Homo sapiens: one gene and its partners. The protein of the gene in region 1 purifies or fractionates together with the protein of each later gene. This does not show direct contact. Each region holds a gene or a part of one and is shown on either strand. Other genes may lie near its edges. The genes, in order: SETD1B, KANSL3, EPB41L1, BTK, KAT14 and SYT1.

What was found.
Region 2: the proteins of SETD1B (region 1) and KANSL3 purify together in Homo sapiens (affinity purification with mass spectrometry, with the first as the bait; one large-scale study listed by BioGRID). This does not show direct contact.
Region 3: the proteins of SETD1B (region 1) and EPB41L1 purify together in Homo sapiens (co-immunoprecipitation; one large-scale study listed by IntAct). This does not show direct contact.
Region 4: the proteins of SETD1B (region 1) and BTK purify together in Homo sapiens (co-immunoprecipitation; one large-scale study listed by IntAct). This does not show direct contact.
Region 5: the proteins of SETD1B (region 1) and KAT14 purify together in Homo sapiens (affinity purification with mass spectrometry, with the first as the bait; one large-scale study listed by BioGRID). This does not show direct contact.
Region 6: the proteins of SETD1B (region 1) and SYT1 purify together in Homo sapiens (co-immunoprecipitation; one large-scale study listed by IntAct). This does not show direct contact.

Annotation. Positions count from the first base shown.
Region 1 is NC_000012.12:121,820,880-121,824,746, forward strand, and holds part of SETD1B (histone-lysine N-methyltransferase SETD1B), read left to right. Parts: intron 1-1,610; coding exon 1,611-2,870; intron 2,871-3,867. UniProt on the Homo sapiens protein: Histone methyltransferase that catalyzes methyl group transfer from S-adenosyl-L-methionine to the epsilon-amino group of 'Lys-4' of histone H3 (H3K4) via a non-processive mechanism.
Region 2 is NC_000002.12:96,600,303-96,604,169, forward strand, and holds part of KANSL3 (KAT8 regulatory NSL complex subunit 3), read right to left. Parts: intron 2,561-3,867; coding exon 2,451-2,560; intron 2,037-2,450; coding exon 1,814-2,036; intron 1,475-1,813; coding exon 1,341-1,474; intron 202-1,340; coding exon of another isoform or gene 172-201; exon of another isoform or gene 1-171. UniProt on the Homo sapiens protein: Non-catalytic component of the NSL histone acetyltransferase complex, a multiprotein complex that mediates histone H4 acetylation at 'Lys-5'- and 'Lys-8' (H4K5ac and H4K8ac) at transcription start sites and promotes transcription initiation.
Region 3 is NC_000020.11:36,227,373-36,230,519, reverse strand, and holds part of EPB41L1 (band 4.1-like protein 1), read right to left. Parts: intron 1,189-3,147; coding exon 1,180-1,188; 3' UTR 1-1,179. UniProt on the Homo sapiens protein: May function to confer stability and plasticity to neuronal membrane via multiple interactions, including the spectrin-actin-based cytoskeleton, integral membrane channels and membrane-associated guanylate kinases.
Region 4 is NC_000023.11:101,372,454-101,376,320, forward strand, and holds part of BTK (tyrosine-protein kinase BTK), read right to left. Parts: intron 2,862-3,867; coding exon of another isoform or gene 2,832-2,861; coding exon 2,691-2,831; intron 2,182-2,690; coding exon 2,083-2,181; intron 1-2,082. UniProt on the Homo sapiens protein: Non-receptor tyrosine kinase indispensable for B lymphocyte development, differentiation and signaling. Binding of antigen to the B-cell antigen receptor (BCR) triggers signaling that ultimately leads to B-cell activation.
Region 5 is NC_000020.11:18,165,317-18,169,183, reverse strand, and holds part of KAT14 (cysteine-rich protein 2-binding protein), read right to left. Parts: intron 1-3,867. UniProt on the Homo sapiens protein: Component of the ATAC complex, a complex with histone acetyltransferase activity on histones H3 and H4. May function as a scaffold for the ATAC complex to promote ATAC complex stability. Has also weak histone acetyltransferase activity toward histone H4.
Region 6 is NC_000012.12:79,280,725-79,284,591, reverse strand, and holds part of SYT1 (synaptotagmin-1), read right to left. Parts: intron 1-3,867. UniProt on the Homo sapiens protein: Calcium sensor that participates in triggering neurotransmitter release at the synapse. May have a regulatory role in the membrane interactions during trafficking of synaptic vesicles at the active zone of the synapse.

The DNA of each region.
Region 1 (3,867 bases):
CCTGTACATTGAACACATGGCTAGGGCCCACGGACATGCAGTTTTCAACCAAATATGGACGGAAAAGACCGGTGGGATGCGAAACCCACTGTATATGGAGGGCGATCGCCTATACGTGGGTTCTGCAAGGCAGACTACAAGCTTTGAGTATGTGCAGATTTAGGTATACCAGGGAGTGTTAGAACCAATTCTCTGTGTGTATTGAGGGACGACTGTGTTTTGTTTAATGTAATGTATTTTGTTTTGTTTATTCCACCATTAACCACAGTCTTTGAACATTGACTCAATACTAAGCCTCTATTGTGTCCCTGCTATTATTTTAGGCAGTAGCAATGCAACAGTGGACCAAACAGACAAAAATATCTGCTCCCACGGAGCAGGGGAACAGATGACAACAGATCAATTAGAAAATGAAAAACAGGTGGCAGGCTCCTGTAATCCCAGCTACTTGGGAGGCTGAGGCAGGAGAATTGCTTGAACCCGGGTGGCAGAGGTTGCAGCGAGCCGAGATCGTGCCACACTGCACTCCAGCCTGGGCGATAGAGTGAGACTGTCTTAAAAAAAAAAAAAAAGAAAGAAAAAGAAATGTGCCGGGCGCGGTGGCTCACACCTGTAATCCCAGCACTGTGGGAAGCCGAGGTAGGCAGATCAACTGAGGTCAGGAGTTTGAGACCAGCCAGGCCAGCATGACGAAACCCCATCTCTACTAAAAGTACAAAAAATTAGCAGGGCGTGGTGGCACGTGCCTGTAATCCCAGCGGCTTGGGAGGCTGAGGAAGGAGAATTGCTTGAACCTGGGAGGAGGAGGTTGCAGTGAGCTGAGATTGTGCCATTGCACTCCAGCCTGGGTGACAGAGTGAGACTGTCTCGAAAAAATAAAAATAAAATAATGTAAAAATAGAAAATGAAAAAGATGTATTCTGTGGTCGGGCATGGTGGCTCACATCTGTAATTCCAGCACTTTGGGAGGCCAAGGCTGGCGGATCACTTGAGGCCAGGAGTTCAAGACCAGCCTAGGCAACATAGAGCCCATCTCTACAAAACATTTAAAGATTAGCTGGGCGTGGTGGCACATTCCTGTAGTCCCACCTACTCAGGAGCCTTAGGCAGGAGGATCCCTTGAGCCCTGGCGGTCTAGGCTGCAGTGACCGTGATCATGCCACTGCATTCCACCCGTCTCAAAAATAAAAAAATAAGTAAATTCATTAAAAAATTAAGAAGTGTATCCTGTGACAGTGGAGATAAGTGCTAGGAAAAAAATCCTTGAAGGCTCCGACAAGTCCTGCAGAAAAGAGACTTGTTGAATTTTATTCAGTCATAGAGCAGATTTTCTTGGGCCACAGGGACTTTGTTCTGAAGACGTAGTATGAAAGGCTGGAATACATGTCTCCTGCATCTGTGATTTAGCCTAGCAACATTGATAAAGCACATACTGTGTGCCTGACACTGGGTTGGGCGCTGAGGAGTCCTTGAGGGGTTTAGCTGGAGAAGGACAGGTCCCGTGCTCAGACTCAGGGCTGTGAGCCTGCCAGGTATGGAGCACAAAATAAGGCACTGAGAGACGTTTGGATTGAATAGTAAATGTCTCGTGTTCGCTCACCTCTCTGCAGAACATGACCTGGAAGTGGAGCCGGAGCCCCCTATGATGCTCCCCTTGCCGCTGCAACCACCATTGCCGCCCCCACGACCACCCCGGCCACCCAGCCCACCGCCGGAGCCTGAGACCACAGATGCCTCACACCCATCTGTCCCTCCGGAGCCCCTTGCCGAGGACCACCCCCCGCATACTCCAGGCCTCTGTGGCAGCCTGGCCAAGTCGCAGAGCACAGAGACGGTGCCAGCCACACCAGGCGGGGAGCCCCCGCTATCAGGGGGCAGCAGTGGCCTGTCCCTGAGCTCTCCGCAAGTGCCCGGCAGCCCCTTCTCCTACCCAGCCCCGTCCCCTAGCTTGAGCAGTGGGGGCCTCCCTCGGACACCTGGCCGGGACTTCAGCTTCACACCCACCTTCTCCGAGCCCAGCGGGCCCTTGCTCCTGCCCGTCTGCCCACTCCCCACTGGCCGACGCGATGAACGCTCCGGGCCCCTGGCCTCCCCGGTGCTCCTGGAGACGGGCCTGCCCCTCCCTCTGCCCCTTCCCCTGCCCTTGCCCTTGGCATTGCCCGCCGTCTTGCGGGCCCAGGCTCGTGCGCCCACCCCGCTGCCACCCCTGCTGCCCGCCCCCCTGGCCTCTTGCCCTCCCCCAATGAAGAGGAAGCCGGGCCGGCCCCGGCGATCCCCACCATCTATGCTCTCCTTGGATGGGCCCTTGGTCCGACCACCAGCAGGGGCCGCCCTTGGAAGGGAACTCCTGCTCCTGCCGGGCCAGCCACAGACCCCCGTCTTCCCCAGCACCCATGACCCCCGGACGGTGACCCTGGACTTCCGGAACGCGGGGATCCCAGCCCCTCCACCACCCCTTCCCCCCCAGCCACCCCCACCCCCACCTCCCCCACCTGTAGAGCCCACCAAGCTGCCCTTTAAGGAGCTAGACAACCAGTGGCCCTCCGAGGCCATTCCTCCGGGCCCCCGTGGGCGCGATGAGGTCACTGAGGAATACATGGAGTTGGCCAAGAGCCGGGGGCCGTGGCGCCGGCCACCTAAGAAGCGCCATGAGGACCTGGTGCCACCTGCGGGCTCGCCCGAACTCTCGCCACCCCAGCCCCTCTTCCGGCCCCGCTCGGAGTTTGAGGAGATGACCATCCTGTATGACATCTGGAACGGTGGCATCGATGAGGAGGACATCCGCTTCCTGTGTGTCACCTACGAGCGACTGCTACAGCAGGACAATGGCATGGACTGGCTTAACGACACGCTCTGGGTCTACCATCCCTATATCCTGCTGGCATGGGGGGCTCTGCACCTTCTGGGATGCAGGAAGTCCCTGCTCACCTCTCTGGGCCCCACCACCCAGTCTGTAGCAGCCCGCGGTGCCCATGAAGGTGACAGCATGCACCACCGTCACTTCCCAAGCAGGGTTTGTGTCCCGGCACCATGCCAGGCTCCCGAGTGAATCATTGGCACGTTTTAAGGACTCCCTCTGCGCCAGGCCCATCTCACCCCCAGAGTTAGCAGGTCTCAGGGTCACATGTAACAGCAGTGCCGTGCAGCTTAACAGCACACACGGGCGCAGGGCCTCCTTGTCCTGTCCCCTTCATAACCTCAGGTAATCCCGGTAGCCTGGTGAAGATGGGGGCTATGATTCCCATTTTACATATGAAGAAGCTAAGGCTCAGAGAGGTTCAGTGACCTGTCCAAAGACACAGCTACAGGTGGCAGAGTTGAGATTTGAACCCAGGCAAACCTGGCTCTAGAGTCCAGGCTCTTCACCACCAGGCTTTCATGAGGCTTGGCTGTTCACATAGGCCAGTGAGGCTAGACCTCTCATTATCCCTGCTGTATTAGACTGATTTGTGAGCACTCAGTTTGTGTCAAGAGCTCTGCTCAAGTGCCGGGCACCATGGCTCACAGCTGTAATCCCAGCACTATGGGAGGCTGAGGCGGACGGATCACTCGAGGCCAGAAGTTTGAGACCAGCCTGGCCAACATGGCAAAACCCCATTTCTACTAAAAATACAAAAATTAGCCGGGTGTGGTAGCACATGCCTATAATTCCAGCTACTCTGGAGGCTGAGGCAGGAGAATTGCTTGAACCCGGGAGGCACAGGTTGTAGTGAGCCAAGATCGCACCACTGCACTCCAGCCTGGGTGACAGAACAAGACTCTGTCTCAAAAAAAAAAAAAAACTCTGCTAAGGACCATAAGCATATTTCATCACTTGCAGAGAGGCATCACTGTCACCCCAATTTACAGATGGGAAACTGAGCAGAA
Region 2 (3,867 bases), on another chromosome or scaffold:
CTAGGAGTAGCATCATGGGAAACTTTCCCTTTCTAAATTAATTATTTCTATAATGTTTGAATTATTTAAAATAAGCATAATCATTTTTATAATTGAAAAAATAAGAAATAAGATAAAATTAAAACATTTCCATCCCTCTGCAAAAAAAGGTAGCTATGATCCCAACGAATGTCAGGTGTTGACCTCTGTGCAGTATTTTCCCTAAAGAGGAAGAGACAGAAGAGCTTTTAGAATGGCTCAGGAACTATCACTGCACCTCCAGTTCACAAGCAGGTTGACATGGTGGAAAGGACAGGGAGACACAGGAAGGCCTTGGCTGTATAGCGGATACTGAAGGAAAGCACACTCAGTACTAGACTCAAACTGTTTTTTGGCTTAACTTCTAATCTTTGAGTGGCTCCTCAGATTACCATTTTAAGATTAGAAATATTTGACTTGAAAAGGTCACAGGGGAAATTAGATCAGCTAAGAGAAACTAATCATGACTTCCTGGGTGAGACCTATAAAAACCTAGCTGTGCCCTAAAAAGACAGCAATAAATGCTAAGATATGGGAAGGCACAGTGCTAGAAAGCCAATGTCAAAGAAAGAGTATTATACTTGGGGGCCGAGGCGGGAGGACCACTTAAACCTTGGAGTTCAAGGCCAGCTTGGGCAACATAGTGAGATATCTCTGTCTCCATGTCCTTAAAAACAAAGAAAGGGCCAGGAGCGGTGGCTCACACCTGTAATCCCAGCACTTTCAGAGGCCGAGACAAGTAGATCACTTGAGGTCAGGAGTACGAGGCCAGCCTGGTCAACACAGTGAAACCCTGTTGTAGCCGGGCATGGTGGCGGGCGCCTGTAATCCCAGTTACTTGGGAGGCTGAGGCAGGAGAATTGCTTGAACCGGGGAGGTGGAGGTTGCAGGGAGCCGAGATCACACCCCTGCACTCCAGCTTGGGCGATAGAGCAAGACTCCATCTCAAAAAATAAAAATAAAAACAAAGAAAGAGCATTAGCCAAGTAGCCTCTACTCATAACCTCTGAAGGATGAAACCAAGGATGAGAAAAAAATGAAACGAAAGGAAAAGTAAACAAAAACATTAAATACTAGACACTGCTACCCACTTGAACATATGTACTCTTCACAATATCAAGGGAGGGATGTAGAAGAGGAAGCTCAAAGATGTCCATGATTCGCTCAATATTATAAAGCCACAAACTCCAGAATACAGATTTGAATTTGAATCTGAATCTCGTCTGTCCAGTGCATGGGCAGCCCCTTCAATCAGCCAGTCAGCTGGTCTTAAACTTCCCAATAATGAAGCCCATGTCCTCAGTCCTTCCTGGCAGACTCACCTGTGAGCTGGAGGGCAGCACCTGGGAAGAGGACTCCTCGGATGGGGCTGCTCCTGAGCCCATAGGGCTCAGTGTAGTGATCCTGCTCGGCTGGCCACGAAGTGTCAGAGTAATGGTGGTGGGGACCTTCAAGCCTGAGATAAAGAGAGAGAAGCAGAATTTTTGAGTCACACTCTCCACCTTCTACTGAGGCTTTCCTTTCCTGGAGAGCTTCTCCCCCACATAACACAGTCCCTTGGCCTCCTCCCCAGCTGGGTCATCTATGCCCTATCAGTCAATCTGAAAGGCAACAGGAAACAGCCTGTGTTCTCTCAACCTCTCTGGGGGATGGGTCCACACAGCTGAATCCAAAGGTCAATGCCAGGACCCTGTGGGACTGGTTTCAACATCATACCTTGCCCACATGAGATGGGAAGGTCCTGGGGGAAAGATCCCAGATCTGGGAGTCCCCACAGTTCTCATGAGAGACTCACCTGATGCTTGGTTAGAGATCTGAGCCAGGCCAGGGAGGCTGCTTGCCAACTTAGCGAGGCCCCCATTGGTCAGCAGCTGGTGGATGGCTGTGGGCTTCCCACCAGGAGTGGCACCCAAGGAGGAGAGAGTGGTGGCCACAGGAATGGTACGGACAATGGTGCTGGTGCCCGTGGTGATGGCACCCAGGCTCTGCATGGGGGTGGGCAACTTCACACTGGTGGCCTGTGGGACACACAAGCCCAGGTGATCAGAAGCTGTCGCCCAACAGCAACATTCGAGCTTGGAGGGCCCACAGCATATTATTAAAGGCTAACATGTATTGAGTGCCTACTACATGCAAGGTACTCTTCCAGGCATTTTGCATATATTATTTCATTCTTATAACAACTCTATGAGGGAGGTACTATTATTACCTCATTTTATAGACAAAGAAACAAAAACAGAGTGGTCAAGAAACTTGCCCAAGGTCACACAGTAAATGATAGACCTTAACTTTTGTAAGTTCCCTGCTATGTAGCTAGAAGGCTGTTTGTCCTTGATCCACTGACTCCAGACCTAGTTTCCCTGCCAAAACCAACTAAGCTGAGGAGGCCTCCTCCCTACACCTGCCCAGCCCAGCAGATGGCAGATGTGCACCTGTGGGGCTGGTCCTGGGGAGGGATTTGCTGGAAGGCCAGAGGTCTTGCTGCTGATATCCTGCAAGCTGAAGCTGAGGCCTTGGAGGAGGCTGCTGGCTGATGTGGCCCCTAAGAGAGGACATAGCAGGAATCAGTAGAGACTCAATCACTTGCACTATCCCGAGAGCAGCCACATCCATCCACCCTCACCACCAACTAAAACACCAGTGGTGCTTGCCCTTGGACACCCGTCCTCAGAGAGAAGGCAGGAAGCTCTCCCCAACTAGGCACACACGCAATGGATGCCACACAGGAAAGGTACTGTGCCAGACACTGCCCCGGACTTGCTCTGCACCTGCTGCAAACCATCAGTCATACATTTTAGACCATTTTGAGAAATCCAAGTTTGTTCCTTTCTTTCCAGGGAAGAACTTTTTAAGCCAAAAGAATTATAAATATCCAACTTTCACTTCGCCTCACACAATCAAAGCAGTAAGGAAGTAGCCTCAAAGCAATAAGAAAGGTTCTCTTAAAGGAAAAGGGTTTATTTTATTTTATTTTTTTTTGAGACGGAGTTTCGCTCTCGTTGCCCAGGCTGGAGCGCAATGGCACAATCTCAGCTCACTGCAACCTCCACCTCCTGGGTTCAAGCGATTCTCCTGCCTCAGCCTACCAAGCAGCTGGGATTACAGGTGCCCACCACCACACCCGGCTAATTTTTTGTATTTTTAGTAGAAACGGGGTTTCACCATATTGGCCAGGCTGGTCTCAAACTCCTGACCTCAGGTGATCCACCCACCTCGGCCTCCCAAAGTGTTGGGATTACAGGTGTGAGTCACCATGCCTGGCCAGGAGAGGGTTTCTGCAATGCCTTGGCCCTGCTGGGCTCAGGCAACAGGCCTTTCAAAGTAGGGTTAGTGGGTAGGACAAAGAGAGAGACAAGCACAGACAGAAAAATGTCTCATTTTGCTAATGCCCAGTGTAGCACCATTTCCAGTTTTATTCAGGCAGATGTGCTTAAAACAGCAAAGTAAAACCACAGTCAGCTCTCAATTATCTGTGAGCTTCACAGCAGATTTGCAGATTCAAACAACCACGGATAGAAACCTGTGGATATAGAATTCCAACGGTATGACATAATTTCATATAAGGGACTTGAGCATCCATGGATTTTGGTAGTGGTGAGGGTCCTAGAACCAATCTCCTGTGGATAAGAAAGGCTGACTATACATATATGTCCTATCGGCTATTTCTCCTTACAGTAGAGGATACAGCACCTGTAGACTGGAACATTTACTCACTTGCAGACCAGGACATTTACTCACTGCATTTATTCAAGGCCAAGGAATCCCTCTGCCCAAGCTAATTCCAGCTTCACGTCAAGCCTCTATGATCACTCTAAGACCCAGAGGCCCATCCTATGGATTTAGCTCCAG
Region 3 (3,147 bases), on another chromosome or scaffold:
TCCCCACCAATCAACCAATTACAAACACCACACACAGTATTACTACACTGAACCCGTCAGCCCCTACTGTGAGCCAACCCACACCCAGAGTCCAGGTCTCCTTAGCTGGGCCAGTTCAGTGAGATCTAGGAACCTCAGGATACATCAATCACAGTCAGATAATTATAATTTTAGAATGTCAGCTTCATACTTACCAGCACTGTTTATTTTAATATTTTTTCCTGTTATATGTAATATACATAACTTCAAAGCACATCCGTACAAACCTCCTACAAGCTGCACCTTCATAATGAGAAACCATAAGCATACAATGTCTACTTCCCTTCCTGTGGCTTCGTTTTCTGTTCTTGCTTTCTTTTCTTTTTCTCATTTCAAAGGAGAGTCATCTGCAGTGGCCCTCAGAAGGACCAGGACACAGAGGGTGAAGGGTGTGGGGTGGGGGAAGGGGGAAGGGGGAGGAGGGAGCCGAGACAGAAAATGACAGCAAGACATTGAGAGTTGAGGGTGAGGGGAGGCGGGAGAGAGGAAGGTAGGTTTTGCAGCCCAGTGTCAAGATCCAGAAAGTAAGAATCCAGTGTTCCTCCTCTTTCTTTCCAAGTGGGGAATTTTCTTTTTTTCTCGGAAAATGGTTGACTGTGCGTGTCTTGCTGCTGTGACTTCTCTTGCTTTGCTGTGCAAGTGTTTTCCTTTGCATTCAAGTGGGCCTTAGAGATGCTGGAGAAGAACAAATGGAATTGCTCGTCTGCTAACTGTAACGTGCAGAACCAGGGCGGGAGGGACTTCTACAATCATCGTGGTCTGGCTTGCGTTTCTTATTTGGCGGGGGAAAGGGGTGAGCAAGGGATTATAGTTATTATATAATTTTTTTTCTTGAAAAAAATCCCACCAGTTCTTCAATTTGTCTGCAAAGGAAATGTAGGTGTTCAGATGTCGGTTGTTGCTGTCAGCCAACTGCTCTGCCAGCCCCAGCAGCAGTGCAAGGATGCGGTGTTTCCTGTATATATATCTATATCTCTATATATCTATATATATATGCTTTTCCCTTCCCAGTCTCTCATCAGTGACAGTACGTCGCAGCTGGGACGTCAGTGTTGCGTCGGAGAATCCAGAATGAAGGCCCCTTCTTAATGGTTCTCTGGCTTGGGTTGGACCAGAAATGCCAGGATCTCTTCACAGAGGTCAGGATTCCTGGAAGCCAGAGGCATGGGGTAGAATGGGGGGTGGGGAGTGGGGGGAAAGGAAGGAAGAGGACAAGAAAAATTAGTAACTTCTGTCACTTGTTTTAAAATACATGGCAAGAGGTTGTTTTTGCTACCCTTTACCATATGCCCTTTATTGTGACTCAGCAAGGTAGAGTGACTTGCACCTGTAATCCCAGCTACTTGGGAGGCTGAGGTGGAAGGATCTCTTGAGGTGAGAAACTCAAGGCTGTAATGTGTAATCATCATGCCTGTGAGTAGCTATTGCACTCCAAGGCCACGCAGCTTGTGTGTGGCAGCAGAGAACCGAACCCACATCTGTTGGATTCCAGAGCCCATGTGTGTTTGCTCGCTTGTTTCCAGGGAGGTGGTAATCTTTTACTTTGGCCTGACAATGTGTTAAAATGTCCTTTAACACCGAGAAGCTAAGATCATCATCATTTTACTTTTTCTTCCTATCTTGTCAGCTCTAAGAAATGTTTAGTCACGATTGCAGATGTTCTTTTTTCATTTGGTTTTCCTTTCTGTTGTCCGTGGGCTTGCTGTGTCCTGGAGATTAAACCACAGACAGCAGTGTTTAAATAAAGAAATGAAGTCTGGATTCCAGGTTTGGCTCCAAAACTCAGTGTTTAAAGGAGCAGGCTCTGAAATCAGACTCCCTGAGTTCAAATCCCACTCTATGGGCCTGCTAGCTCTGTAATCTTGGGTGAGTTTCTTAACTTCCTTTACTTTAAACAGTTTTTAACAGACGAGTCTTACTATGTTGCTCAGGCTGGAGTGCAATAGCTATTCACAGGCACAATCAATGCACATTACAGCCTTGAATTCCTGGCTGCAAGTGATCCTTCTGCCTCAGCCTCCCAAGTAGCTGGGATTACAGGTGCACGCCACAGTGCCTGGCAAGTTTCTTAACTTCTTTAAGCCTCAATTGCTTCCTCCGTAAAATAGGTTCTGCCTCCCATTATAGGGAGGAACTGAAGCAAGGGCCCAGCATATAGTAAGTGCTGAATAAATACTGGCTGTTCTTATTATGATGATTGTTGCTGTTGTTAATTTAACCACACACTACTCTGATCTCCTTGAGGGTAAGGGCTATCTTTTAACTCTTGTCTTTCCAGTGTTCAACACTGTGCCTGGCACATAGCAACTACTCAAAACCATTTAATGGATGAAACATCATTTCTGCTACTTGCATGCAGTCGAGTGCTAACGGAATCACAGAAAATGGATCTTTCTTGGCTCATTTGACACATAGGAAAACCGAGGCCCAGAGGCTTCAGGCTTAGTAAGTTGGCAAAACCAAGACTAAAACCCAAGGTTCCTGTTTTGGAACAGGTCAATTTTTTCCCATTAAATTTTGGAAGGTTAGGAAGCTAGGCAAGTGCTGCCCTCTTGCTGGTGGTGTTTGGGAGACAGGTCCTCTCTGAAGGAGGTGGGCCAGTGGGAGAAGATGGAGCAGAAACCAGACGTCTGACCTGCAAGGTTGCAGGGAGAGAAGGGAAAAGGTTCTGTGTGACATGAGTGACTTTCCACGCTCATAGCAAGAACTTCAAGAAGGAAGAACTTTAAGAAGGAAGACAGAGTTAACTGAAGCAGGGACAGATGTTTCTGGAGGATTTGCAGAAGGAACAGAAGATGAAGACCAGTAAGACAAACACCCTCATGGAGACAGGGCCTCAGGCACCAGGCTGGTGGTGGAGAATTACGATCTGACTTTCTCAGTACTCTCATCAACCTCTAAACATGGAAAAACCTCAGAGGGACAAGGAAGCAGGTTCACCTTGCTGAGCCCCTTCTGTAGGCAAGACACAGATCCAGTATATCACAGGTGTTGTTTAGTTATTACAGCAACTCCAATGTATACATTAATGACATTTTGCAGATGAGGAAACTGAGGTCAGAGAGGTTCCTCTGGGCACACAGCTACCAAGGTGTTTCTAGCTCCAAA
Region 4 (3,867 bases), on another chromosome or scaffold:
TTTTTTTTTTTTGAGACGGAGTCTTGCTCTGTCGTCCAGCCTGGATGTGCAGTGGTGCGATCTCGGCTCACTGCAACCTCCGCCTCCTGGGTTCAAGGGAGTCTCCTGCCTCAGCCTCCCGAGTAGCTGGGATTACAGGCTCGCGCCACCATGCCCAGCTAATTTTTGTATTTTTAGTAGAGACGGGGTTTCACCATGTTGGTCAGGCTGGTCTCGAACTCCTGCTCATGATCCGCCTGCCTTGGCCTCCCAAAGTGCTGGGATTACAGGCGTGAGCCACCACGCCCCACCTGAAATGCTATTTTTCTTGGCTGTCAAATTAACTAATATTTAAAATATCTAGTGTTGGGCTGGGCACAGTGGCTCACGCCTGTAATCCCAGCACTTTGGGAGGCCGAGGTGGGAGGATCACTTGAGGTCAGGAGTTTGAGATCAGCCTGACCAATCTGGTGAAACCCCATCTCTACTAAAAATACAAAAATTAGCAGGGTGTGGTGGTGGGCGCCTGTAGTCCCAGCTACTCAGGAGGCTGGGGCAGGAGAATCACTTGAACCGGAGGCAGAGGTTACAGTGAGCGGAGATCGCACCACTGCACTCCAGCCTGGGCGACACAGCGAGACTCCATCTCAGAAAATAATAATAATAATAAAAATAACAAAATATCTAGTGTTGGAAAAAATGTACAGAAACAGGCACTCTCATACATAGCTTGTAGGTGTGTATGAAATTCAATTCCACTTCTAGAAAATGAAATAAAAAGATAAAAATAACCAAAGTGCACAGATTTTCTTAAAGAGAAGAACAAAATTTTACTTCTAGGAAATTATCATAAGGAAAAGAATAAAAAAAGTACAGAAAGATGTATGCAAGATTGTTCCTCTCAACATGGTTTATACTATCAAGTACTTGTAGACAAACCGAATGTGTAATAATGGGAGATTAAACAAATTACAATACATCCATAATAGGGAATACCATACAGTCATTAAAATCATGTTATTAAAGAATATCTATTGTCATGGGGAAAAGTTTCCCACATATCGTTACATTGAAAAAGTACGTTACAAAGCAAGATGTGTACTATGAGTCTATGTTTTAAATATATGACATATATATAAGTGTATGCGTATGTGTTCTCAGTGAAGAAAAACATCTGTAAGTCTATGTACACCAATATGTTGATAGTTGTTTTAACTGGGTAACAGGATTATGCATCATTTTAATCTTTTTGTATTTTTTATATATTCCAGAGTTTCTGTAATAAATACGCAATTCTCCTGTGATCAAGAAAATACTGAAAATGGTCAGACCCAGTGGGTGGCTCACGCCTGTAATCTTTGCACTTTGGGAGGCCGAGACAGGCGGATCACTTGAGGCCAGGAGTTCAAGACCAGCCTGGCCAACATGGTGAAACCCCGTCTCTACTAAAAAAATACGAAAAATTAGCCAGGCATGGTGGTGCACACCTGTAATCCCAGCTACTTGGGAGGCTGAGGCATGAGAATTGCTTGAACCCGGGAGGTGAAGGTTGCAGTGAGCCAAGATGGCACCAGTGCATTCCAGCCTGGGCAACAGAGCGAGACTCTGTCTAAAAAAAGAAAAAAAAAAGAAAAAAAGAAAATACTGAAATTGATATATATTTTTTAAAAGTGAACTCAAAAATCAGTAGGTTTTATGTCTCTCGCTCCGGAAAGTGAGAAGAGAATAAATAGTAAGGTATTAAAGGATATCATGTGACTCAGAGCCCTAGGATTATGACATTCAGACTTACTTAAGCCTCTAAATCTGATCCTGAGAGAACTGAGGGAATAAAATCAATGATCTCTGACCAGTTTGAAAACTAGATATAGCATCATTTAAAAGTTTGTGTTAACAAATTTTCCATGTTTAGTGAGATGTTCTGAATATGAAGGAAAGAAGCTAAGATTCTTTATAACCAATATGGTAGAGTGAAGAATTTTTAAAGGAAACTTGACCGTGTTCCACGTTGCACAGCATCACCAGTCTATTTACAGAGAATTTAAATGTTGCAAATTTCTTCAAATCTGCTGTTCCCCATCTCAGACATTGGTCTCTTCTTACCGGAATCTGTCTTTCTGGAGGAGGATTTTTTTCAGGAACCACTGTTTCAACACAAGTGATCTTCTCAACATCTATTGAACCCTTCTTACTGCCTCTTCTCTGAGAAGTAGAATGAGGAAGAAAATGGAGAAAGATTAAGAGGGATTAAGCAACCAGATGATTAGATTTTGTTATCTAATCATTCAACAAAGTGAGGTGGCACCAGGACCTGTCATGTGGGGGAAGAAAAAAAAATCCTTCCAGATCTATAAATCTATGACTACCAAATGGAGGGCAAATACCATGGAAGAGTGAATGACTGTATGTACCTTCCTCATAGGAAGTAAGGAAGCAATTTCCAACTCTTCGATTTCATTTTCAACAATCATTTAATGAGTGCTCATCAATTCCAAGATTCCATGGTAATATTTTCCTTGTGGCTTCTTAGGACCTTTGACTTTCCGGCTTTAGCTAGTTATAGGCTAGGAAATATTTTGCTGAATTTGAAAGAACTTAGGTCCATTCTACTCCCCTCCTCCTACCAACGAAAATTTACCTCTTCCCCAAGAAAGATCTAAGGCCAAGTCCTTGATATCTTGAAACTCAGTTTTCATAGTCGAGAAACTTACCCCACGTTCAAAGTCATACTCATAGTAGGAGAGTTTGTGCACGGTCAAGAGAAACAGGCGCTTCTTGAAGTTTAGAGGTGATGTTTTCTTTTTCTGTTGGGATCGCTTCAGAAAGATGCTCTCCAGAATCACTGCGGCCATAGCTTCTTCTTTCTGGAGTTCACCTGTGTGCTGTTGATAATGAAAGTTCCTGAGGACCCAGGACATTAATCCTCATCCCTCTTGGTTCCCCCTCAGCCTAGCTACCTAGTTTCAAATGGAACAAAAATGTGCACAGCTCACAAAATAATTTCTTCCTACCAACCTCCTCCCACAGCCCCCAGCTCTGTCAGGTTTCAGGTATAATGGATGCACACTGAATTGGGGGGGGATTGGTTCGATGTTGTGAGCTCATATAAACTGAGTTCTTGTATAAGGCAATGGAATGCTCTAGATGTTAAATGGCACGCACCTGTGTGCTTGGTAAGGTGTAGAGGTAGCTTTACACTATTCACCTTTATATGATATGTGTAGAATCTGTGAAAAGCAAAAGTATCTGTGCAGCTGTTGATCTTGATATACCCAGAAGGGATAATGCAGGTGCCAGAACTCCACTGAGGCAGATATTGGACTTTCAGTTCCCAATTTCCTAGACGGTGAATATAATTTTTCAAACATTGTCCCACTGGGGTCTGTAACCAAGGGAACTAATAAGGATATGGAGGCTGCACCTGCAGTTCTGGACACACACTAACTGCTGCCCAACTGATTTTGCCCACACCCACTGACTGAGCTACAAAGGATAGAAGATTTGTTCTAAAGTTGAAAACATAATTTTTTTTGGTGGGTTTTGGTGGGGGGGGGGTAGTTGTTGTTTTCTGACCTTTTCCCCATTTAGCTTAAATTAGTTCTTTTAGACAGCATCATGCAAAAGTGATGCAACTGTCTTACTGATATAGATGCCACCTCTGTTCATTTATGAAACACAACTTATTTAGCCTCCCCAAACCTACAATACTCCAGAAGGATTCAATTTAGGTAACTGAAACACAGAAAGACAAATAAAGTTCCCAAAGTCACCACTGGCTTTTTTATTCACACCAAGCAACACTTCATATCAGTTATTCACTTACAGTTTATGCACAGTGTAATATTATTACTAATTCCGAACTTTCATTGGAAAGATAAAGTGAAAACA
Region 5 (3,867 bases), on another chromosome or scaffold:
AAGAGATGAAAACTCTGAAAATGAATCAAAAAGAAATGCTGGAGATAAAAAACACTGTAACCAATATAAAGGTTGCCTTTGATGATGGGCTTATTTGTAGACTGGACACGGCTGAGTAAAGAATCTCTGAACTTGAGGATCTGTCAGTAAAAACTTCCAAAACTGAAAAGCAAAGACAAAAAAGATGAAAAAAAAGAACAAAACAGACTATCCGAGAACTGCGGAAAACTACAAAAGGTGTAATAAACACACAATGGGAATACCAGAAGACAGAAAGGAATAGAAGAAAAATTTGAAGCAATAATGACTGAGAATATCCCCAATTTAATGTCAGACACCAAACCACACATTCAGGAAGGTCAGCGAACACCAAGCAGAATAAATGCCAAGAAGCATATAAAATACCTCTGACCAAAAGAACAGAGTTGTCAAGTAAGACAAATGAGAACAAACACAATTTCTGTGTTTTGGATGTGCTGGAAAATAAAATAATAGAAAAAAGAAAACAAAGCTTTAAAAAGAGAAAATAAAAGACACTTAACATGCACTAATTAAAGATAAAAAACAAAGAGAAAATTCTGAAAGTTTTAGGAGATGGGAGAATAAAACAAGGAGGCCACTTAATTGATAAGAAACAAAAAAAATTTTTTTTTTTTGAGAGAGAGTCTCACCCAATCACCCACGCTGGAGTGCAGTGGCATGATCTCAGCTCACTGTAACCTCTGCCTCTCTGGTTCAAGTGATTCTCAAGCCTCAGCCTCCCAAGCAGCTGGGATTATAGGCATGCGCCACCAGGCCTGGCTAATTTTTTTATTTTTAGTAGAGACGGGGTTTCACCATATTGTCCAGGCTGGTCTCAAATTCCTGGCCTCAAGTGATCTGCCTGCCTCGACCTCCCAAAGTGCTGGGATTACAGGCATGAGCCACTGAGCCCAGTCAAAAATTTCTATTTCTTATCAGTACCGGGGTTCTCAGGAGTGACACTGTATGTAAGATGATAATGAAGTCATAATTTCAAAATATCAATGGAAAAAACTAAAATAACAATTTTATATGACTGCTATCATTTAAATGAAAAAGTGAAATGAAGATATTCTTAGTCGTATAAGTTTTCAAAATTAACCTCAAAAAGCCCATATTTTTAAAGAACTGTTAGAGAAAGCAGTCCAGCAAGAAATTAATCTAGAAAGAAACAATAGGACGAGTGAATAATTTAGTAAAGATTTATGTCATTTAAATAAGCAATACAAAAGAAAAAAAGAGATAAGTGCATGAAAATGTACTTTTTTGTTTGGGGGGACAACCACATGATATTAAAAAAAGAATAAGGAAAAATAAATGTATCTTAAGTTAGGACCTATAAAAAGAATAAAAATAGAATGTATAACTTTCTTTATGGTACAGAATGAACATCACATAAACTATTTTCTCTGATCATAATACAACATTAGAAATCACATCAATTACCAAAACATAGCTTAAAATTCTCATATATCTGAAAACCAAAAAACAACTAAATAACCTTTGGATTAAAGAGGAAATAATGAGAAAAATAACAAAATGCCAAGTACTGATTGGAAATAAAATCACATCATTTCAAAAGTCAAGAATCACAGCTAAAGCAGCACTTATTGAGAAACTTATAGCTACGAATACATTCAAAGAATAAATATAAAACAAGAGTATGGATTGAATAAATGCATTTACAGCCACTCCCTGTGTAAATACATTAAAATTTATACTAAAATTCCAAGTTAAGACTGGGTTAAAACACAAGCATATAAAGCTTTACTACTTCCCAAAATCCCACTAAAACTATAGAAGCTGACTTAATTAGAACAGTAACTGGTAAACAGATGGACAAATAGTAACTGATTTAACACCAAAATCCCAAAGTGGCTTTGGGTAAGCTAAATGAGAACTAACCCAATCTATACTACAGAACCCGCTAAAATCCAGGCAGCAGCCAGCAGATTCCTCTGGAACTGGGACCAAATGGGACAATAAAATAAGGAGCAGGCAAACACCATGTGGAAAGCAGTATGATCCCCAGATCCTTCCACTCCCTGTTGCTGGGTGGCTGCCCTCCCCCAGAAGCCAGGAGGTCTGATCTCTAGAGAACTAACAGGGGATCCAGCTGGAGGGCTGAGGTGTGAGTACCTGACAAGCTGAATGCTAAGGTCCCTCTTCCCCAACTTGGCAACCAGCATCCTGAGCCCAGAAGATTATTCCCCAGGGACTCTGACTAGATTCAAAGAAAAAACCTAAAGGAAGTGCAGTGGTCCTCAACAGAGGTCTCACCTAGACAATGTGGCTGTGTATGGAATTCCAGGTTCAACCTCACTTAATGAGGGTCTTTTCAGTATGTTGGTCTCAAATTTTACTTCCCATGCAGCTTTTCTCAGGAAGTCATTAAGAACAAGGGAATAAACCTATAACAAGGTAAAGATGGGCCACAGGAAACAGGAGATCAAATACAGAGGAGGGCAAAAGAATCTCCAGAGAGGGGAGATCCCAACACCCCTGCTGAGTTTCACAACAAAGGGTGAACAAGTGTGACCCAAGGGGCAGACATAGTGTAGAAAGTAAAAAGTTTCCTCTTCAAAGTTTTCCTTCTTGTTAAAGAATAAATCATAAGTGTTAGAAATAACAGTTTCTTTTAAAGACTAACTTTCTTCAAGTCTCCTTGCCTTGTGCTAATAACTCTTTGTTAAGCCCTATCCTCTGTAACCGTTGGACATGCTCACAGGCACGTTCCAGCCCACAGTCTACGCCCCTTCCTTATTTGGAAATGTTATTGCTTCCTTAAACCTTTTGTAAGCAACTTCTTTGTTCTTCCCTGCACTTACCTATTTAGGAAAGTTTTAGGCTATTAGCAAATCGGGTATCAGTTTAAGATTGTGAGGTCCCGCTCCAGCCAGTGGATGCAGGACACAGCAGTAAGGACGACCCAAGTGCGTAAGGGATAAATATGTCTGCTTTTCCTGTGTTCAAGTGTGCTCTCACCTTTGTTCCATCTGCAACTGAGCACCCTTTCTACAGAAAGAAAAGATGGCCTTGCTGAGATACCTTTTGTCTCTGTGCTGACTTTTCTTCGCAGCACCGATTATCTATTTCTAACAATTTTGGTATTTCTAACACATATTGAGGCTATCATCCTTAAGTCCTTGCTGCCACTGACCATCTTTTAAACCTATGGCGTCGTGGCCCAGAATCTTATCTACGCTCAGCTTGTCTTCACCATGTACAGGTGAGCCTCCTGTACACCACCCATGCCCACCCCAAAGACCAGCTGATGATGCTCACTCCACAAATAACTGCTTTGACCTTCTGCAAGCTGGAAGGAAGCTGTCAGCTCAGGCAGGAAATACAGAGGATCCCACTTCCTCTGCCCAGATTTCTGCCGCATCTCTGGTATACATCACAGCCCTGGCTGATGCATACGCTATGGTGAGCCTCATGTTTCCCAGGACTCCCTAGTGACCTTGGCCAGTGACTACCTCAGAAGGGGTTCATGGAAGCCGAAGCCAGAACATCACTGTAAGTATTAGTTTCCCAGGGCTGTAGGAACAAAGCACCACAAACTGGGTGGCTTAAAACAACAGGAATTTATTGTCTCACAGTTCTAGAGGCCAAATGTCAGAAGTCACAGTGTGGGCAGGGCTATGCTCTCTGGGGTACGCACTAGGGGAGAATTTGTTCTGTGCCCTTCTCTTAGCTCCTGGTGCTGCCGGCAATCCTTGGTGGTCTTGGCTAATTATATTTGCAAAGGGCCTATTTCCAGATAAGGCTGCATTCATAGGTACCAGGGTTGGGACTTCAACATATGCTTAAGGGGGACACAATTCAGTCCACAACAATGACCCA
Region 6 (3,867 bases), about 43 Mb from region 1:
TGCTGGGATTACAGGCGTGAACCACCACACCTGGCCAAAGTTAGCTATCATTTCTTTATAGTCAAGGCATGGTGGGTAAGGCAGAGAGCTCAGGACATATGAAAAAACATAAACTACTCACACAAGTAAATACCTAAAAAGCAAGATAAATACACAGAGGGGAGTTTAGTGAAAATGCAAAGGCAATGAGAGGAGGACGGATGATTTTTAGATAAGAGGAGAGGCTTAGGTTTACAGGCTGTTTAAAATAATAGAACATATATACATAAATATACTAAAATAAACATTGAGTTTTCTATTACAGTTGTCTCTCTGATAAAAGTTAATATATTTTCTTATTTGGTATGCCTTACACCATGTGCTTATAAAAAATAAGGTGACATGGAAACATTTATGATTTCAGTTAGATTGGAAGGGAAGTATTCATAATCCAAATCACAGCTATTGAGATTAATCAGAAGTAATTAGATTTGTCTGTTGTAATAAAAAAAAAAGATACTGGGCACTGAAATGATAAGAAAAAGCCAAATAAACATTACTAGAACCAATGATTGCTGAACACCAGTCAGGAATACTTTGATAAAGTAAAAACACTTAAAAATTAACCTCTCTTCAAAATTGAGAAAATCTACTCTCTTTGCTTTTCCTCTGCATTTAGTATCATTGTGCAGAATACTTACTATGCATAATATTCTGGCTTATGACTGGATACTAGATGTTAACCTAAGGACATAAAACTACAACTTTTGAAATTGTGTTTTCTACCAAAGAAATACTTATGTGACAGTTACAGATAAACCCACACCTAAAGAAGTTTTCTTCCAGTTCTCTAAATTTATTAAACAAGGTAAAGATTACATAAAAAGTAAATTATTTTATGTAACCAATGATATCATTCATAATACTTCATTTAAAAGCATCTATCTCCATTGATTTAGTTAAAATCCTGTCATGCATGAACAAGAGAGTGTATGTATTCATTGCGGGAAAGACAGCATTCATAATGACCCTTCATTTTGAACCTCATAAATTATTCTCCCAGTTGGACTTGTGTGGTGATAGTCGCTCAGAGAGCTACATAAAAGTCTCTTAAATTGTACAAGACAAGACAAAGATGATTTGACAAGTTCACAAAAAGAAAATAGTGAAAGCAAAGGAACATCATTTAATCAAAGGGAGTTAAAGAGCTAGGAACATGAGATTACAGGAAGAAATTTGAAATAATGCAACTTGAAAGTAATTTATAACCACTGAAAAACTTTTGTTTTATGACTTTTATTTCTTAAAGCACTGCTGTCTTTTAGATTTGCCTTCAGTTGATCTTCTGAATAACTTTAAGTTGGAATATGCTGTATTAAATATAATGAAATTAACAGAATTTTCTTCACAATGTATTGGCACCTTTAGATAGACAAAATAAAAAATGCTTAACGTTATCATTTTGTATAGCTATAGGATAGCTTCACTCATTAGTCATATATCATGTAAAGAAACAGCCATTTTTAGTAAATAGAGTTACTTGGATGCTCATGTTAAAATTTTATTTAATTGTGTAGAGTAACCAAATATTTAAAATTTGGCAAGTTTACTAAGAAACAACACCCACAGTATTATTCATCTGCAGTATTTGTAGAAACATGTTTCAATATTGGTCAGCAAATCTTGTGGAATATATTTTGGATCAGGCTAAAAGTTTATTGAAGACCTACCTACCTGTTATGGCCCAGCAATTTGGCTACAGTTATAGATACATTATCTTATTTATTCTTTGCAGCAGTTTTGTTCAGTATCACTGCAGTTTTACAGAGGAAAAACTATAGGTTGAATAGTTTGAGAAATTCAAATTTATCTTTAGGTCGTTAGGTTAAAAATGTGAATATTAAAAATGTATACGGAGAAAAAATTTGTATCTAGCTTTAAAGTCTCTTTAATAGAACATATTAAATTAAATAATTCAGTGAAGCAAATAACAGCATAAAATGCAGTGATTTTTTAAATACAAAATAAGAGTTTCAGTCAAAAATAGTCTCATCAAAATACTGCTACAGGCAGAAAACTATCAGTTTATTGTTATTGCTACCCAACTACCATTACATGGAAGTTTATAATAACAATTTTAACATTCAACTTAAAGGCCTTTCAGCAGAAAATAATTGACTAGTATAAAAACTCTATTAAAAATTTTATTTTCATTTTCTAGTTAATGAATCAATCTCACATATATTATCTGACCCAAAGGTAAATTGATACATAATAATTAAGTACAAGGCAAATTAATTTAAAACTGCTTCTGATGTTTTAATTAATACCTTGTGGTAGACATGATAATGGCCCCTCCAAGATGACCACATCCTATTTTCTGGAAGCTGTGAATACCTTACCCTGCCTGGTAAGAGGGACTTTGCAAGTGTGATTAGATTAAGGATCTTGAGATGGGGAAATTATCCTGAATTATCTGAGTGTAGACTCAATGCAATTACCAGAGTTTTTATAAGTGAAAGAGGCAGGCAGAAATGTCAGAGTCCAAGAGAGAGAGGGAGATTTGAAGAGTCTCTGTTGCTGGTTTTGTAGATAAAGAAAGGGACCATGAGCCAAGGAATGCAGGTGCCTCTTGAAGCTGGAAAAGGCAGGGAAATGGATTCTCCCCTACACCTTCAAGAGAGAATTGGCCCTGCTGACGCCTTGATTTCAGCTCAGTGAAACCAATTTCAGATTTCTGACCTCCAGAATGGGAAAATAATAAATGTGTGTGGCTTTTATGACAGTAAACTTGGAATAATTCATTATAGCAACAATAGGAACTCAAGTGATACAAAGAAGACCTCAAGAGATTTGTAATATATGCTGTATATAGGTAACTATACATTAGTAATATTCATGTGGGCTAGTCATGTATTTTCTGCTGTCTTTTCATTTATTTATTTATTTTAGTAGCTCTAGGGGTTTGGTTAAATGGATGAATTGTATAGTAGTAACGTCTGGGCTTTTAGTGTACCCATCACCTGAATGGTGTACATTGTATCCAATAGGTAATATTTAATCTCTCATCCCCTTCCCACTTTTGAGTCTCCAGTGTTCATTATACCATTCTATATGCCCATGCATACCCATAGCTTAGCTTTCACTTATAAGTGAGAATATGCAGTTTTTGGTTTTCTGTTTCTGAGTTACTTCACTTAGGATAATAGCCTCCAATTCTAACCAAGTTGCTGCAAAAAGACATTATTTTGTTCTTTTATTATAACTGAGTAGTATTCCATGATCTATCTATCTATATCTATCTATATCTCTATATCCGTATCTGACATTTTCTTTATCCACTCATCCATTGATGAGCACTTAGGTTGATTCCATACCTCTGCGTTTGTGAATTGTGCTGCAATAAACATATAAGTGCAGGTGTCTTTTTGATATAATGGCTTCTTTTTCTTTGGGTAGATATCCATTAGTGGGATTGCTGGATCAAATGGTAGAACTGTTTTTAGTTCTTTGAGAACTCTCCATACTGTTCTGCATAGAAGTTGTACTAATTTACCTAATACATCAACAGTGAGTAAGAGTTCCATTTTCACAGCATCCATGCCAGTATCTATTTTTTTTTTTTTTACTTTTTATTAATGGCCATTCTGACTGTAAGGTGGTATCTCATTTTGGTTTTAATTTTTATTTCTCTGATGATTAGTGATGTGGAGCATTTTTTTCATATGTTTGTTGGCCACTTGTATGGCTTCTTTTGAAAAATCTCTCTTCACATATTCCCACTTTTTATGGGATTATTATCTTTTTTTCTTGCTGATTTGAGGTCCCTGTGGATCTTGGATATTAGCCGTTTGTTGGATGTATAGTTTGTGAATATTTTCTCCCATT